Regions from separate parts of the Homo sapiens genome. Here all the other regions are linked to region 1. The links come from fine-mapping of genetic effects on gene expression. A gene starts in region 1. Each other region holds a variant in brackets. All regions are shown on one strand. Distances are from middle to middle.

Region 1 (5,000 bases):
CCACACACGCCCTGCATAAAACTCCCCACCCTTGCTTACTCTATAAAAGCAGGGCACTGTCTGTCCTGGTCCACACTGTGTTCCCACCACCTAGAAATCATGCAGCCCTCAGGTGGTATTTGAGATATATATTTGTATATATAAGATTTTCTTAAATCTTATTTTATTAACTAATTCTAAACTTTAGAAAAGTTTCAGGAATAGAACAAAGAGCTCCCATATCCTTTCCCAAGGTTCACTCATCACTACCATTTTTAACCTATTTGCTTAACATCCCCGTCTCTACACACATAACACCTTTGTTGCCCTAGACACTACACACCTCAGTATGTGTACACACAGCTGTTTATAGGCTGTGCCTTTGGTTTGTTTCTTAAGGTGCACTATATGTAGATCATTCACTCAACAAATGTTAAGTGAGCACCTACTACACAACCAGCACTGTTCAGGCACTGGGGGTTCAGCAGTGAATGAAGCAGGCAACAATTCCTGCCTCCAGGGAGCTCTGCCACAAGTTTCCTGTCCAGGTCTTCACTGGGCCATGCAGGCCATGCTTCTCTTTGAGGGCTAGGAGACAGACCACTGGGTTTGGTGGGGTCCACCTGAAGAAGCATGGGACGCTCACAGGATATCCTGGAAAGGCCTGCCTCGAGTCAGGCATGCCTGGCTCAGAATCCCACCTGCCGCTTACAAGCTGTGTGACTGCAGGCCAGTGGCGTGCCCTCTCTGAACCTGGAATGTCTCTTTAACTTGAGGTAAGAACCCCACTATCTGGCAGCATCAAGTGGCCATTGGATGTCCGGCTCCTTCCCGTGACTCTGGCGGGGCCTGGTGGACGCCCTGCTCTCCCTTCTCCGCTTCACTCCCTTGAGCAAGTCACTTGGCGTCCCTGAACTTTATGTTCAGCAACTATTCTGAAGGCAGGTGGATACCTGGGAGGAAACTAAGAACCCCCGAGTATCGTCCTGGGTGCTCACGCCAGGGCTTCATTCTTGGCATGACTTTTCTGCAATGGGGCGGTCACCCCCGTTTAATAGAAGTGGAATCTGTGGCTCGCAGGGGCTAGTCGTGTCCCCTGGTGCGGGAGCAGGATGGGACCCAGGCTGCCTCACTGTGCAGCGGGGACTCTGACTCTCCATGCTGTATGAAGCAACCTGCTGCCTACCCTCAAACCACAGGGACTATCGCACCCTCATCAAGGGTCACCAGACCCTGGGCCCGGGGGCCAGGCAGATAACACAAATGAGAGAAGAGGGTGAGGGCTTGGGGACACCTGGGATGCCTGGTGTCAGGGGGCACTGCTGACTTAGTGCCAGCTGGCACGGAAGTGCACAGCTGGGTTGCCAGAGCTGGCAGTTTTTTCAAGAATAGACAGAAATTCAGGATTAAATTGAAAGCAATCTCTCCCAGGCATGGAACTCACCGTGAACCTTGATCTAAACAAGGCTGTGAATAGCCCGGTGGGGTTTTGGCCCTGTGGTTTATGCCAGCCTGGCCCTGGCCCTGGCTAGAACTGCCCCATTGAGTTTTCCACCTGGGTCTTTGCCAGGATACTGGGCCAACTGTGTCACCTGGTGACCTCATTACCTGGTATTTCTGCTGGTCCGAGGCGACGCCATCCCACCACAGCCGGAAAAACTCCTGCTCCACAGCGATGAACCGGCGCTGCTGGCCGCGGGCCAGCTCTTCCACCACTGAGGTGTAGACATTGGCGGCGTACGCCCGCATGCTTTCCTGGGGAGGGGACAGCATCATGCCAGCCCCGGTCCAACAAGACCAAGTGTCCCTGGGGCCCCTGCCATTCGCCAGGTGTGTCTGCATGGGGTTGGGGGCTCTGCCCTTCCTTCCCTGCTGCTCACCCCCCACACAGCTATTAGGCACTCGCTCCATACCAGGCTCTCCCCACTGGATGGGATCGTGCTCTCCTGGGGGAGAGGGACGGGGAAACAGACACCCTACATGGGCAGAGACAGGTGCCCTCCCAGCCCAGGGGTCAGGGACAGTTTCTCAGAGGGGTGAGCAAGCTGGGCCTTGAGTGTGCAATTTGGGGGGCTGGGCCCTGAGTGTGCCATTGAGGGGCAGCACAGGAAAGTCTTAGGCCTCAGTCGGGGTGTGGTCCAGTGACCCCAAAGGGGCCTGCTGGGGCTGAAATGAGGAAAGCTGGTGCTGAGAGGAAGAGCTCCCCAGGCTGTCCCTGGCGTCTAGGCGTCTGCCTCCCCAAGGCTGGGAGCTCCAAGGACCACAGCTGTAGTGTGTTCCCATCCGAGTCCCGAGGGCCCTGCACACAGGGTGCCCACAGAGTGCTTACATGAATGGAAGGAGCACCGAGCAGGGAGTCAGGAGGCATGAGGGTTATTCCCGAGCGACCTTGGGCAAGGCAGCAACCCTCTCTGGGCCTCGGTTTTCTCCTCTGGAAACTGGCTGTAGTGGGCATGCTTCCCCTACCCTTTACAGATGGGGAAACTGAGGCTTAGGGACCAAAGCCCCTCGCCCAAGGTCCTGAGCAGAACCAGGAGGTGACCACAGGTCCACCTTCACCCCTGTCCTGGGGGGCGGAGGACGCTGAGCTGGCCTCCAATATTCAGCCCCGCAGGGGACCAGCCCGGCCCCTTCCCAGCGGGCACCTGACATCCACCTGCTCTGAAGCCAGCCCCACCCTCTCCTGCTCCAGGCTTCCCTGGAAAATGGGTTACCACTGTCAACCCCCAAGCCCCTCCCCAGCCGGGAATGCAGGGGTCCCTCCAATCTGCACCACCCTCCAGAAGGGGAAATGGGGGTTCAGAGGCAGGAAGTGACTGGCCCGAAGTTAGCGACGCAACCAGTCAATGGCAGCGTGGGGTCCTGAACCCACTGAGCCTCCTTCTGCGCCGGCATCGGGCCCCGGGACGCAAACCCACACTCAGATCCCGCGGGGAGAGGGAAGCTGCAGCCTCAGGGGCGCGCGGGGCGTGGTCGGCACCTACCTGCACAGTGTAGACCCAGCCCACGTCCATGTGGCTGTGGGGCACCACGAAGGCCCGGATGGGGCCGGCGGACTGGACCCCTGGCGGTCGCAGCAACAGGAGCGGTGCCAGCAGCGGCAGCCAGCACAGCTGCCCCATCCCTGCGGCAGGCCGGGAAGGTGCCAGGCCCACTTCCGGGTCCGCGAGGGGCGGGGCGGCCGCGCGGGCGGGGACGCGGCCCATTGGCTGCGGGCGGGGGCGGGGCCCATTGGTTGCCGGCTGGACGCCGACCCCGGGAAGCTCGGGAAGGAGGAGCTGGAGGCGCGGGGCCCTCAGCGGGGCAGGGCGCCTGCTCTTTGCGGTTTAGCTCTCCATCCCCGTCTCCAGCTTTCTGGCCTTCCCTCCCTGTCCATCCTTTCAGCCCCATCTCCCCCAAGCCTGCCAGATCTCCCCCAACCAGAGGAGACCCCTCCTCGCCCAAAGCCCACGCTCTGGTGGTTCCTCTCGGAGCGTGTGCCTCTTCGCAATACCTGCATCCCGCCCTCTGGACTCGGCTCCGGGACTCTGAGGCTACCGTGCAAAATTCGGCTCAGCACGGACCCTGTGAGCTCTGCCACCAGGAACCTTCCCTGATAACCCTTTCCCTCCTCTCCCTGGCGTCGAAACCCCATCTGGGCGGCGCCATGGGGGGCTTGTTATGGGACTGTCTCCTTTTTTTTTTTTTGGACAGGATCTCACTCTGTCTCCCAGGCCGGAGTGCAGTGGCGCGATCAGGGCTCACTGCAGCCTTGACCTCCCGGGCCCAAGTGATCCTCCCACCTCAGCCTCCTGAGTAGCTGGGACCACAGGGGCACACTGCCACACCCAGCTAATTAAAAAAAAAATTTATAGAGATGGGGGCCTCACTATGTTGCCCAGGCTGGTCCCAAACTCCTGAGCTCAAGCGATCCTCCTGCCTCCGCCTCTCAAAGTGCTGGGATTACAGGCATAAACCAGCATGCCTGGCTCAACTGTCTCCATTTTAAGGAGGAGAACTGGCTTTCAGAGACAGTAACTGACTTGTCCAAGATCACGCAGTTAGTGGAGGAGCCAAGAGAAGCTTTCTGGGTTACTGGATGGTGACCTGGGGCGACATAGGTAACCTCGCTGAGCCTCAGTGAAATGGGTCCGATAGAGGAGCTGTGAACAAAGTAAGGATGCACCCAGGCTGAGAGCGTGAGCACAGCACCCCTTGCCTGCACTCAGGGGAGGTGCGGTCACATTGGTGCAGCCTGTTTGGGACTGTTGCCTGGAGTCAGCCCTGTCCACTACTCCCTGCCCAAGAAAGCAAGGGTCTGTGGCTTGGGGTTTACTGTCTGAGAACCACTTGGCTGTGCCCCTGCCTGGCATTTCCTAGCGGAACCAGAGCTGCAGCTCTGAGCAAAAGTGCTGGTCCTCTTGTCCATTATGTAACAAATGGAAACTGAGAACAGGTTCTCCAAGCAGGTCTCCCTCCTCCTTCTGTCCTGTCCACCCCCTGGGGACCCCTGCATCCCCATAGCCTCAGGTCAGATGGTCTGAGCCTGACGTGGACAGTACTCACTAACACATGTCCCCATGACCGGCCAGGCTCACAGCTGGGCTCCACTCTCCAGCCTCTGCAACCAGGTGCGGCCACGTGGCTAAGTGCTAGTCAATGGGATGGGTGGGGGCGGGCACTGTGCTCCTCTTCCAGGCTGGCCCCTAACAACCTCCTGTGGGTGAGCCCTGCTCTCTTACTCACCCACTGCTCCAGTGGAGGGCACTCCGAGGACCTCAGGGAGGTTAGAGCCACCAATGGAGGCTCTGAAGAACCACATGGAACCATGAGGAACCCAAAGAGCTGTGACAAGAGGGAGAAATAAGCTTTAATTGTGTTAAGCCACTGAGTTTATCGATAAGGCAGTGTCACAATCTTTGGCAGACTGTATCTGCCAAAGATGGGCTCCACAACATTACCCACCCCCCAAGCTCTTTGTAGAATTTGGTTGACGAGAAAAGCCACACTCTAAAATATCTCAGAACGTTTATTCTAAGCCA
Region 2 (7,037 bases), 43 kb before region 1:
TAATATTTGTAGGATTCACTCAGGCTGTGGCATGCGTCAGAATTTCCTTCCTTTTTATGGCCAAATAATATTCCATTGTATGGACAGAACACACTTCATGTCTTAATTCATCTGTGGATGGACATTTGGGTTGTTGCTACCGTTTGACTTTTGAGTAATGCTGCTATGAACGCGGGAGCACAGGTATTGTGTGGATGGATGTTTTCAATTCTCTTGGGCATAGACCTGGGAAGGTTATACTTTTATTGATATTAATAGTTCTGATATTGGACATCCCTGCTGTGTGGTTTCACCTCTCATGGACTCTGACGGCTGCTGTGCCTTCTCTGCTCGGCAGGCGGTGCCCTGAGGCACAGGTGGGCGTCTGGGGCTGGAACTCTCGCTAGGCGCTACAACTTCCTCTCCTGCCCTGTGGCAGAGCCAAGCCCCTTGCAGGGCTGTTGCCAGCATGGGATGAGTCTATGAAAACACGTGGCACGCAGTAGGTCCACAGTTACCACTGGCAGCCTGGCAAGCCTGGCAGGGCCCGGACGGCAGATGCGCTTCGGTGCTGCTGTGAGTCTTGTGCTCTGCCTTAGGCAGAAAGTCCTGGGTTTGTGTTTTGTGAATGAATGACGCATGAGTGTGCCAAATATCCTTTACGTGACAGAAGAGGAGAGGGCTGGCTTGATTGAGTGTGGGGGGGAAGAACCTGGATCTTGTAATGTAATTTTTGTTTAAAAAAATTAGGGAAAAACCCCAAATATGACCATTTCCTGCCATTAGCCTGCAGATGAGCAGCTGACTCCCCAGTCCCATCCCTCCGCACTGCTTTTCCCTGTCCTGGGTCTGTTCTGTTACATGGAGTTCCTGGGGGAAGCCCTGGGGCCGGGGCATCTGCCCAGGGCTCACTGCTGTTGAAAGTGAATAAAGAACGTCCGGATTTCCTTTGGGTGGACGGTGATGATGGGGCCTCCTGGTGGCCTCGAGGGAGAGGTGGTGTCACCTAGGGGAACAGAGGTGATCTGTCCAGTGTGGCCTGGGATGCCTCCTCCCAGCCTCCCTCTCACCCCCTGCACCTGTCTACAGTCTGCTGTGGCTCCCAGCCTCCCTCTCACCCTCCTGCACCTGTCTACAATCTGCTGTGGCTCCCAGCCTCCTTCTCACCACACTGCACCTGGCTACAGTCTGCTGTGGCTCCCACCGTGGCAACGGCCTATGGCATCCCCTTCTGCCAGGACTCCTGTGGGCCTCTTGGCGTTTCTGCCCACCCTGAGGGCAATTCATAGGTTGGTCCTGGCCCTAGTGGCCTCAATTCCTCATGGGTGTTGCCCTCAAAGCCCAAGAGCTTTCTGAGACCATCTGGTGAGTCTGCCCTTGCCTCACCAGGCTCCCCTGAAGGCATGCCCTGGGGTTGGGCTTCGATCTTGGGAGGGAGCCGTCCACTTATCTATCACTCATCCATCTTCCTTCCTTCTTTCCAACCAACATCATCTTCCCTCCCTCCCTCCCTCCGTCCCTTCCTTCCTCCCACCACCAACTGAGCGTGCACCATGCACCCGCCACCATGCTGTGTGTAGTGGACAACGAGCTGCACAGGACAGAAGAAACCCCTGGGGCCAGGAGAGTGGAGGAGGCACTTGGCCTGGTTGGTGACTCTGGGGAGGCATCCTGGGGAGCTTGAGCAGGTGCTGGCCAGAGTGAATGGGACCTGTGCGTCCCAGGCAGAGGGCATGGTGCGGACAGGGAGTGGAGCCTGGAAGCTGCCTGTAGTGCAGGAGCTCACGGTGGCACATGTCGTATGAGGCAGGGACCGGCTGATGGGCTGAGGTCAGCAGGGCCAAGGTGGGCAGAAGCCCCTGGGCCCCTAGCTGTCACCCAGGGCACAGGCAGGGCGTGTGGTCTGCGTGTGCACACGTACAAGTGCACACACACGCCTGTGTGGAGCCCTGGCAGGCAGAGACTAACCCAAAGCCTTTCTTAACCGACTGTAGTAGATTTGGGAGGGCTGCGGGTTCAGAGTAGGAAAGCAGCCTCGCAAGGTCGCACAGGCCGGGACAGGCAGATGGTTGGATGTGCACCGGGTCTGACCAGCTGCTGAGCCTGGCTGGGAGTCCTGGGTAGGGAGCTGAAGCGGGGGTCCCCAAACCTCTGTGGCGGCCAGGCCCCGTCCTCCAGCTCCAGCGGTGCAGCATGCTCAAATCCCAGGTCCCTGTGAGCGAGCGCTCCTCCACTGCCACCACGGACCCCAGCGCCTGCAGCACAGCCTGCAGGGAGAGGAGCAGAGGGAGAGTGAGCTGCACCAAGTTCCAGAGCTGAGCAGAGAACCAAGACAGCAGCAGGGCAGACACACCACGAACTCGGTGTCCTCAGGAGCCCAGGTCCTCCCCTGGTGCCTGACACAGCTCCCTCATCTGCTTCTCACAGCACATCTGCGAGGACAGGACTGGCCGTGTACTTTACAGATGAGGACACTGAAGCGGGAGGTGCATGCTTTACCAGGTGGCCGAGCTGGAGGAGCAGCCCGGGAGGTGTGGCATTTTGAGCTGCCCACCCCACCGCGGAGTTCTCCTCTCCCCACATTGCTCAGGTGGCCCCGTGCCCAGTCCAGGGAGGAAGCCAGCCACAGTTACCCCATCCCCCTTTCCCAATAGGCCTTGTCCCAGCCTCCCTTACACCTAGGGGAGGCAGGAGGCCCTTAGGGGTCTGGAAAAGTCTGTGGAGCAGGAGGGCTGGGGGTGGCTCTTGGAGAAGCTTCTGTGTGCTGACGGAGGGAGAGAGCCACGCTAGGGCAAGGCCTTTCTGGCCACTACTGCTGAGCCCTACCCTGCCTTGAAATTTGCTCATGAGGGAGGCCTGTGCCATCTTGTGACCGCAAACAAGCAGACGGCAAAAGACAAAAGCCAGTCTGCCGGCGATGGCGGGAAGATGACAGTGATCGGGCCCACGGTGACAGCGCTTGGGGTCCATCGGACATGCCTGTTCGGTGAGAAAACACTCTGTCCTCTGTTCTAAGCACATCTGTTAGGTGTTTTGTGACTTGCAGCCAAACTCACTGCGTTCCTAACTCAATGGTCTTTCCACCCCACCACCGTCCACGTTGGGCAGGGAGTCATGGTGTCCATCCCAACCGTCTCCTTGTCTCAGGGCCTTGGTGCTTCCATCTGTGAAACGGGGGAGCATCAGATGACCAACTTCCAGGTCCCACGCTGGCCTCCTTGCTTCCCAGGGCAGGCTGGCCCTGTGCTGGGCACTGGTACCCGCCATGGCCTAGACCTGCTCTCAGGCAGGCCAGGGACCGTGAGGAAAGGATCCTCCGTGGCGAGGATCATGAAAGAGGAGGTGGGTGGCCCAGTAAGACATCATGGCGAAAAGGTACTGGGGCTTCTCTGGATTCCCCTGAAGACTCAGATGTCGAAGGAGGCCCAAGGCAGAAACACAGAGATTCACAGAAATTCTCCATGAGCAGGAAATGAAATAGAAAGAATGCAAACTGGGAAAGAAATGAGGCGGCTCAGGTCATGCCTTCTGGGGAGGGAGCGTGGGCAGGCCAGGTGGCGGAAGCCTCGCCTGATAGTAGAGCTGAGAGGGCAACATCAGCCAAGAGGGGAACCTGGAAGGGGACGAGGCCTGGGGGCCCTGACACTGCACGAGGCCCCTTAGTGCCAGGGCCTCTCAGCAACCTTCTGGGCAAAGAACTCTCACCTCTCCCCATTTTACATGGGGGGAAACTGAGGCCCAGAGGCATGGGGTGCCGGAGATGCCCCCGTAGAGGGGCCTGGGTGTGGACCCTGGATTGTCTGACTCTAAGTCACCTTTCAAAGCAACTCTATGGGGAATCTGTTTTGTTTTTGGATTACACAGATGTTGTCTGTGTTTTAAAAGTTTTACCACAGAATAAATAAGAAAGAAAATACAGGCCACTCACGCCTGTAATCCCAGCACTTCAGGAGGCTAAGACAGGCAGATTGCTTGAGGCCAGACGTTCGAGACCAGCCTGAGCAACACAGCAAGACCGTGTCTCTACTAAAAATAAAAAAACTAGGCCAGGCTTGGTGGCTCACGCCTGTAATCCCAGCACTTTGCGAGGCCGAGGCAGGTGGATCACCTGAAGTCAGGGGTTCGTGACCAGCCTGACCAACATGGAGAAACCCTGTCTCTACTAAAAGTACAAAAAAATTAGCCGGGCGTGGTGGCACATGCCTGTAATCCCAGCTACTCGGGAGGCTGAGGCAGGAGAATCACTTGAACCTGGGAGATGGAGGTTGCAGCCAGCTGAGAGCGCACCATTGCACTCCAGCCTGGGGGACGAGAGCGAAACTCGGTCTCAAAAAAAAAAAAAAAAACTTAGCCATCGTGGTGGCGCGCCCCTGTGATCCCAGTTACTTGGGAGGTTGAGGTGGGAGGATCACTTGAGCCAGGGAGGCAGAGGTTGCAGTGAGCTGAGATTGTGCCACTGCACCCCAGACTGGGCAACAGAGTGAGATCCTGTCTCACATATACACAAAAAACCCTAAAAAACCAGGCCAGTTGTAATACCTGACAAACCCAGAAGACCATGAAGAAGGGCGGGGTGGGGCCCATACCAGCGTCCATTTGGGAGGAAGCCCTCGTGGATCTCTTTGCCAAGGCAGTTTCTTGGGGCTTCATCTAGGGTTTGCTTCCCTGGCTTATGGTCTGGATGGGGGTGGGGAAGTTCACCTCCAGATTCACTGT[C/T]ACTGGCTGAGACAGGACTGGGTCCTCGCCCACTTCATATAGGTGGTAGAGCCGCAGCAGGACACGGCGGAGGTCAGCCTGGGCTTCCCCTCGATGGCCTTTGGGGACAGAAGGAAGGTGGCAGTGAAGACCCTCATCAACCAACCCCAATGTCCCTGGTCTATACCCGCTGCTTTACACACTCAGCTCCATTTCCTATCTGTAACCTCCTCGATATGGTTTGGCTGTGTCCCCAACCAAATCTCATCGTGAATTGTAGCTCCCATAATGTCCACATGTTGTGGGAGGGACCTGGTGGGAGGTAATTGAATCATGGGGGTGAGTCTTTCCTGTGCTGTTCTTGTGATAGTGAATAAGTCTCATGAGACCTGATGATTTTGTAAAGGGCAGTTCCCCTGCACACGCTCTCTTGCCTGCCACCATGTAAGACGTGACTTTGCTCCTCATTTGCCTTCTGCCATGATTGTGAGGCCTCCCTATCCAGGTGGAACTGTGAGTCCATTAAACCTTTTTTCTTCATAAACTACCCAGTCTCGGGTATGTCTTTATGAGCAGCATGAGAACAGACTAATAGACTCCATGTGAGACAGCTGACATGGCCCCCACTCGACAAGGAAACCAAGGCTCAGAGAGGGGCAGTCACGTGCCCAAGGCATACAGCTGGTGCGCGGCAGAGGGAGGATTCCCACCCAGGTCTGGCCGACTGTAAGGCTGCCCACCATGACACCAGCTGCAATGTTTCCATCCTCGTCCACTGTTGTGGGCATATTGGGGCATGTCCTCAAATACTCCAGTCTCTCCTACCCTGCCCCCTTTGAAGTCAGGGGAGGCTGCGTGGCCTCTGTGGCCAATGCAAAGTGAGCTGAAGTGACGCAGTACTTCCCGGCAGAAGCTTTTTCTTGCCATGGTGAGTGAGGAAGCACGTGCTGCAATACAAACTCCATCAGCGGGGGGCGTGGTGGCCACAGCAAGAAAAACCTTCCTGCTAACCCCACTGGATGCACAGCATGGGGGAGAAATGAATATATACTGTTAAGACCGTGGGCATTCGGGGCTCTTTGTTACTGCAGCATACGCCAGCCACCCTGACTGATATAATGCTGTCATTTGCCACATGATGTATGTGATCTCCTGTCCCATCCCTGATCTTCCCACTCAGAAAGGCTCATTGCCATTGCTCCCGTTTTACAGATGGGAAGACCGAGGCTCAGAGGAAAGCACTGAGTTCAAGGTCCTGGAGAGAGGACCTGGTTAACACAGGTGCTTCCTAAACCCTGGCTGGTAGAACCTCAGCTCTGCAGCTATGCCTCAAAGCTGACTAAATCAATCTGTCTGGGATTAGAATTGAGGCATCAGTATTAAAAAAAAAATTTTGGCAGGGTGTGGTGGCTCACACCTGTAATCGCAGCACTTTGGGAGGCCAAGGAGGGCGGATTGCCTGCTGTCAGGAGTTTGAGACCAGCCTGGTCAGCACAGTGAAACCCTGTCTCTATTAAAAATACAAAAATTAGCTGGGCATGGTGGTGGGCACCTGTAATCCCAGCTACTCGGGAGGCTGAGGTAGGAGAATTGCTTGAACCTGGGTGGTGGAGGTTGCAGTGAGCCAAGATCACACCACTGCACTCCAGCCTGGGCAACAGATTGAGACTCTGTCTCAAAGAAAAAAAAAATTTTTTTAGAGACAGGGTCTTGCTCTGTTGCCCAGGCTGGAGTGCTGTAGCATGATTACAGCTCACTGCAGCCTTGAACTCCTGGCCTCAAGTGATCCTTTCACCTCAGCCTCCTGAGTAGCTGGGACCACAGGCAAGCATCACCACACCCGCCTAATTTTTTAATTTTTTTTTGTAGAGACAGAGTCTAGCTATGTTGCCCAGGCTGGTCTCGAACTCCTGGCCTGAAGTGATCCTGCTACCTCGGCCTCCCAAAGTGCTGGCATTACAGATGTGAGCCACCTTGCCTGGCCCATTTTTAAGAAGCTATCATGGGGCTATGGGGTAGCTGGTTTTCAGAATGGCACAGGGGAATGACTGCCCAAGATCACAAAAGCCAAGAGGTTTGTGAAAGTGCTTCTACATCTCCTGGTGTGGTGGTGAGGAGTTCCAGCTCCAAAGTCAGGGAAGGCCTCCTGTGTCCCACACAGCAGGAATGGTGAGGGATCCCATTTCACAAGGCGGCTGCAGGTGCCTGGGAAAGCAGGCTCAGGCACACGCCACCATGACCAGAGAACTTTTCTATTTTTATTTTTATAGACACAGGATCTTCCTATGCTGCCCAGGCTGGTCTTGAACTCCTGGGCTCAAGCAATCCGCCTGCCTCGGATCCCCTAAGTGCTGGGATTCCAG
Region 3 (6,501 bases), 120 kb before region 1:
GAGATCACACCACTGCACTCCAGCCTGGCCGACAGAGCAAGACTCCGTCTCAAAAAAAAAAAAAAGATTGCAGTGAGCCACGATAGCACCACTGCATTCCAGACTGGGTGACAGGGCAAGGCCGTCTCTCAAAGGAAAAAAGAAACAAAGATTTCCATTCTGGCAGTCCACCCCTTTTGTTTCCCCCATTATTAACTTTACTTCTCCCTCATTATTAGTTTTTACTTTATTTAAATGTGTGTATCTGCTCCCATCTAACCTAACACGACTCTCTCTCTAGCAAAAATATTTGCAATCTGCAGTCCCTTCCCCAAAGAGGGATCCACCCAAGCCTCGTATTGTTGTGTCCACCTCCAAGTTCAGGATCTTTTGGTGATAGATCTTCTCTAGTGAAAATGTCTTCAAACATAGCAAGAGGCTTTAAATACTGGGTATCCAAAAAATGATAGGGGTCCTAAAACCAGATCCAGTTACCTACCTATCATCCAAGACCTCGCTTGAGTCCTTTTGGGTGCTCCCAACATTAGTGTCGTAAAACTAAATACAGGTGATGTGAGCAGTTGTTCACTGATGATTCTAATGCTCTCTTGGAATTCATTGTTTCTCTGTTATGGTGTTTCATAGTCTTTGTGGCAAAAATAGCATTGCATCATTAAAAGTATGTTACTGTCTGGGCGTGGTGGCTGAAGCCTGTAATCCCAGCACTTTGGGAGGCCGAGGTGGGTGGATCACGAGCTCAGGAGATCGAGACCATCCTGGCTAACACGGTGAAACCCTGTCTCTACTAAAAATACAAAAAATTAGCCGGGCGTGGTGGTGGGCACCTGTAGTCCCAGCTACTCAGGAGGTTGAGGCAGGAGAATGGCGTGAACCTGGGAGGCGGAGCTGGCAGTGAGCCAAGATCGCACCATTGCACTCCAGCCTGGGCAACACAGTGAGACTCCGTCTCAAAAAAAAAAAAAAAGAAAAAAAGATATGTTACTTTGCGAGGCGCAGTGGCTCACACCTGTAATCCCAGCACTTTGGGAGGTTGAGGTGGGCAGATCACCTGAAATCAGGAGTTCGAGACCAGCCTGGCCAACATGGTGACACCCCGTCTCTACTAAAAATACAAAAAGTAGCCAGGTGTGGTTTTGCGGGTGCCTGCAGTCCCAGGTACTCGGGAGGCTGAGGCAGGAGAATCACTTGAACCCAAGAGGCGGAGGTTGCAGTGAGCTGAGATGGCGCCATTGCATTCCAGCCTGGGTGACAAGAGCGAGACTCCGTCTCAAAAATAAATAAATATTAGAAGTATGTTACTTGAAGAAAACATGCTGTTTGGAGAGATGGAGGGGCCCAGGTTCAATGAGTGGCTACGTGACCGACTAAATGAATTACGAAGTAGATGAATAAATACATGGATGTGTGTACCCGAGCCTCCCTTGGGTCCAGGACATGGTGGCATTCACACGGCCAAAGGTGGGACTGTGTCTCAGTGGGCACTCAGAAGATGGCCAACAAATGGATTTTTATCGACTGCCTTGTCTTCTTCATCTGTCTCACCACTGCAGGCAGGCAATGAGTAATGAAATGACAAGTTTAATTAGTGAATTCTGTTTTGTGGGGAGAGGACACTGAGGTTTTAAGGAAATAACCAGTTTCTCTGAGACCAGGATCATTTCATAAGCATTTATTAATCAGAGGTACATGAGCAGGCTCAGCCTAGGGGAATAATTGCCAACAAACACTTTTGGGAAGCCTGGGACCATGGCTCTGCCAGGAATCTGTGACATCTCCAGGGCATCATTTGAGTCCTGCCTTCTCAAAGTACTTGTGACAGGCAGACGTGATTGCAGCCACGAACACTATGAACTCACTGAAGTCCACCTGGGCATCTCCATTGGCGTCCAGGTCCTTGAGCAATTTATCCACGGCATCCTTGTCTTTTCCACTCTAGAGGAGAGAGAGGCTCAAGGTCAGCAGTGAGGGTGCCTGTGCAGGGCCTCAGCCTCCACCAAGCACTGCTGCTGGGCAGGAGCAGGGCACCCACATCTGCGTCACCTTTGCTGTCAGGGCCAGGGCCAGCTGTGCATAGCAGACACATGGCATTCCTGGCCTTAAGAACTTGTGAGCTGCCTTCAGCTATCTGGCATGACATGAACTAACTTGTAATGTTTTTAGAGCGAATTGGAATTGTGCTCTGCGAGAGGGAGTTTCATTTTGAGTTTTTGCCGGGGGTTGTCTTTGGATTTGTAAAGTGCTTTACAGTGATGGTTGTTCTCAGGAAATGCATCCAGTCTTTGCTCTATTTTTTGTGCACTGCTAACTTCATGGGCCTCCCATCTCGTGCTGGCACTGAACTAGCTGCTTACACAAACAGGAACTCCTCAACACCACCAGACACGGCAGAGGCATCGCCCTGTTACAGATGAAGATGATAAGGCCCAGAGGGCCCAAGGGACCTGCCCTGAAGTCACACAGGGAGCCGGGGAAAGCCAGGGTTGAGCCCCAGGTGTGGAGCGAGCATGGAGCAAGCACCCTGAGCCCTGTTCTTCCTCTCTGCTTGGGTCCCAAGCTCTCAGGTCTTCTTTGAGAAGGCCAGGCCGGCAGGGCTCTCAGAGCCTGCCCATGTGATAGCAAAGCGTTCTCACTGTGGGACCAAGCGGGACCAGGATGCAGATCTGAACAGCAGCAGCAGGGTGTGCTGATGACCCAGCCCTGGGCCAGAGAGCTGTGTGTCCAGGTGGAAAGAAACACAATTAAAATTGGTAGAAACATATCATCTGACCAAGACACAACTGTGTGCATGAAGACCTTAGTGACAGCATGGTTTGCAATAGCAAAAGTAAGGCAGGGAAGTACAAATTCAATAGCAAACAAATAGTGGTATGGCCATGTC[A/G]CAATACCCTGCGGCCATTTCAAGTGATGTTTACAAAGTTTGTAGGCAGACAGTCACCTCGTATTTACAAAGCTCCGACTGTGCGGGGCGCTGGGTTGGGCACGGAGCAGATAGGGCCAGAAGGCCAGCCCAGCCCAGCCCTGCCCTCAGGCGGACATTGTTCTCTGACTCCGGCTTTGCTGGGCTTCAGCAGCCTCCGGAGGGAGGGCTGAGAAGGGCACCCAGGGCCTCCCCGAGGTGATTCTAATGTAACACATTAGCTGGACCCCCAGCTTTGCCATTGCTTCTCAAAGTGTGTTCCCAGGACACCTGTGCCTGCCCCTCCCCACACCCCAGTATCTTGGATCAAAGTCCTCATGGGTTCAATTCTCATACTTTGATCATTATCAGAACACCCCGAGCCCCAAGCCCAAGTTCCCAGGATGGGGCTGGGGTGTTTAATGAACATCAGAGTTTGAGAATTTATGTTGTAATGTTAAGCTCAAAAAGAAATTACATTGCATGTAAATCTCACTCACAGCAATGTTCATATGGGGAAAAGGCTGGAAGGGAGAGGAAGCGTCTGTATTCCAGGGGGGATTTCTTCCCTCCATATTTATCTATTTTTACATTTTCTACCAAAAACAGAACTTTATTTTTAAAAGATATCTTTACAGAATTCACATTTAGAAAATAGAACTAGGCCAGGTGTCGGGGCTCACGCCTGTAATCACAGCACTTTGAGATGTCGAGGCTGACGCATTGCCTGAGCACAGGAGTTTGAGACCAGCCTGGGCAACATGGTGAGACCTTGTCTCTAAAAAAAATACAAAAATTAACCGGGTATGGTGACATGCACCTGTAGTCCCAGCTACTCGGTAGGCTGAGGTGGGAGGATCACCTGAGCCCAGGGAGGTCGAGGCTGCAGTGAGCCGTGATCCTGCCACTGCACTCCAGCCTGGGTGACAGAGTGACATCTTGTCTCAAAAAAAAAAAAAAAGAAAAGAAAAGAAAATAGAAGCAATATTCTGAAGTGTTTCATGTCTTTGAAGTGATTCTAGGGCTGAAAATTTCAGGCTTTCATTTTTGATTATCAGCATCTATGTGGGTTAGCCCCTTAGCAGGTAGGCAGAGTCTGGTGGGGCCCGAAGGGGAGGGGAAGGAAGGAAGAAAGTGGGGGAGTGAGAAAGAAGGAGAGGACAGGGGTCAAAGGGAAGGGGAAATGGAGAGGGTACGGCTTCTGTTCAGCCCAGCCGGAGGCTGCCCCGGGCGGAAGGAAGCTGGTCCTGGCCGCCCTGAGGGGCCTTCTGTGAGGCTCAGGCCGGTGGCTCCTCCCTGGCAGGGAGCCCAAGGGAGGTCCACAGCTCTGCGCAGACAGGTGCCAGGATGGAGCCTCCTCCCGTCCTTCCTGCCAGACCCACTAATACCAGGCAACAAGGGGCCTGGGAATGGGAGCAGGGAAAGCGGGCAAGTGGGAGGCAGAGCTGGGGCGTTTATGGCCGGCAGCCTTGGAGGACAGCCCCGAGGGCTCAAGGGCTTGGCAAGCTTGGCAAACTTGCAAATGGCAGCCCTGGATTGCATTCCGCCCCTGCCCCCACTGCACAGGTTTGAGTCCCACTCTCCCACCAGGCCTGTCACAAATACACTGGGGTCAACCCCATGTTTCAAGGATCAAGCTGACCACACCCTCTCCCTGCTCAGATGCTCCCGCCTCCCCTGCCTTTATGCCAGGGTGGGTCCGTTCCTTGGCTGGGCTTCCAGGGCATTTCAGGATCTGTCCCTCTTGCCTCTGAGCCCCTTGACCGCCGACCCCACCGCAGCTCTCAGCCCTCTGCCTGCCACGCCTTCCCCTTCTTCCCCAGCCCCCGCTGAGTCCAGCACTGCCGGCCTGGCTCACCTGCAGGAAGCCTGGTAGCTCCTTCTCCATCAGCACCTTGAGCTCCCCCTTGGTCAGGGTCTGCGTGCTGCCCTCGCTGCCCGAATATCGGGAAAAGACGTCTATGATCATGCCCATGGCTGTCTCTAGTTCCGTCATGGTGCTAGATTCAGACCCACCTTCCTCCTGGGGGCTGGCAGGGCCGAGAAAATGTCCCACTGGCAGCCTCTTGGTGCTTTATAAGGCAGCCTCATATTGACACAGAGGGTGGGACAGTGGGGTTGGGACATTCAGGAAGTCCTGCCCCTCCCCATTCATGTGCTCAGTTCTGATGAAATGCATCGTTGTGATGACGTTTCTGGAACCTTTCCCCCAGCCAAGGCCCAGGGTGTGGGCTGCCTCCAGGCATCCACATTTTACAGTGTTCACCTGTGTCTCGGCGCCATCACTGAGCCACAGTGGCATCCTCATTCCTGGCCCTCCCTGGGTAAGTGGGCACGGGGTGAGTGTGTGTGGAGTGAGTGGTGACTCCGTGGCCCTTTGTGTCAATATCAGAGCGTGCTGGCACCCAGCGTGCTGACACGAGGAGACATCTGAGAGTGAATTCACATGGGCGTGTTTGTGAACATGGATCTGCCCCATCGTCCCTTTCTTAGAGCACTCTGTGTCCTTCAGAGGCCCAGCTTCCACGTCAATCTCGCTCGCTCCTCCCCTGTGGGGCCAAACAGAAAACTCCCCTTCATCCTCTGGGAGTTTGCTGAAAATCAACGGGCAGAAGGCAGATGAATAGGAGAAGAGCATAACAGATGTATTTGATCATAGCTTATGTGGCACGGCAGCCTTCAAGATGAAGATCCAAAGATCTGGTGGAAACTATCCATAAACACAGTTCAGCGAAGTATGGAAATATGATTGGATACAAAAGTAAGGCTGGATGCTCACAGACCAAGAGGAGAGCCTGGTAGGGCCTGTTGAGTCAGATTCCCTGGGGCCTCTCTGAGCAGCTCTCCTTCCTTCTAGGTGTGGGGCAGGACTCTTTCTGGAATGGAGCTCTTATGACCTACAGTCAAATAAAGCAGGCCAGAGGGTTTCTTTAGGCTGGTTTCTACACAGAAAGGGGAGGGAGTGGAGAACTGGAGTCATATTTCTGGGTTTTATGGCAGGGTTTGGGGAAGCCTCTCAGAGGAGGAGGAGCTGGAGACAGGAGGGTGGGAGCAGGACAGAGAAACTTTTGTTTCTGAGGCTTCCACGTTGGGGTGTTGTTTTTTGAGCCCCGGCACTTACCAAACCCAAATCACCCACAGGGCTTAGACGGCACAAAGGCTCCTGGGACTCTGGGCAGAGTCAGGGACAGTCACACCCCTCCCCGTCTCTATAGCGGAGGTACTCAGAGGGTCTGTGCTTGGGAGGCTGAGCGAGTCCTGGAGAGCATGGAGGTAGGGGCCTGTGTTCACATCCTGCCCCGGTCAAAGTAGGCCCACACTCAAAGGCCTCTCTCTCAGCAGAGATCTTCCAGAGTGTCAGCCTCCAGCAAGTTCCCTAACCTCTCCCAACACAGCCTCCACCAGCACATGGGCCGAGACTCTCCCCACGGGGCTGTGGCTCAACATAGAAAAACCTTGGTGCACGATGGCAGCAGCAGGTCTCACAAGAGCCGGCTTTCTCAGAACACACTGCCTCTGCCCAGGTGTCCTGCAGTGGAGGCTCAGACTGGCCCCACTGGTGACCCCTTGGGGAGCAGGGACAGGTCCATTCTGCTCACTCCTGA

What was found.
Region 2: its variant is fine-mapped to the expression of MAN2B2 in whole blood (TOPMed, PIP above 0.99).
Region 3: its variant is fine-mapped to the expression of MAN2B2 in whole blood (TOPMed, PIP above 0.99).

What each region holds. Positions count from the first base shown.
Region 1 is chr4:6,573,312-6,578,311 of GRCh38, reverse strand. MAN2B2 (mannosidase alpha class 2B member 2) reads right to left here and starts at 3,123. Exons shown (of 19, transcript NM_015274.3): 1 at 2,964-3,123; 2 at 1,588-1,734. The coding sequence starts at 3,101. It overlaps LOC105374365 (a long non-coding RNA gene), which reads right to left. Exons shown (of 3, transcript XR_925098.3): 2 at 4,705-4,803; 3 at 3,974-4,121. RefSeq lists a silencer at 2,874-3,333 and enhancers at 2,622-3,390, 3,391-4,158, 4,159-4,927.
Region 2 is chr4:6,615,136-6,622,172 of GRCh38, reverse strand. MAN2B2 (mannosidase alpha class 2B member 2) reads right to left here. Exons shown (of 19, transcript NM_015274.3): 17 at 4,681-4,793; 18 at 2,129-2,246; 19 at 1-985. The coding sequence ends at 888. Among named protein-coding and RNA genes, the nearest start is that of MRFAP1, 22 kb to the left of the region's middle. The variant C/T (reference allele first, on the strand shown) is at 4,696.
Region 3 is chr4:6,692,324-6,698,824 of GRCh38, reverse strand. It overlaps S100P (S100 calcium binding protein P), which reads right to left and starts at 4,947. Exons shown (of 2, transcript NM_005980.3): 1 at 4,755-4,947; 2 at 1,655-1,932. The coding sequence starts at 4,892. The coding sequence ends at 1,783. RefSeq lists enhancers at 1,979-2,741, 3,944-4,679, 4,680-5,416, 5,726-6,263. The variant A/G (reference allele first, on the strand shown) is at 2,879.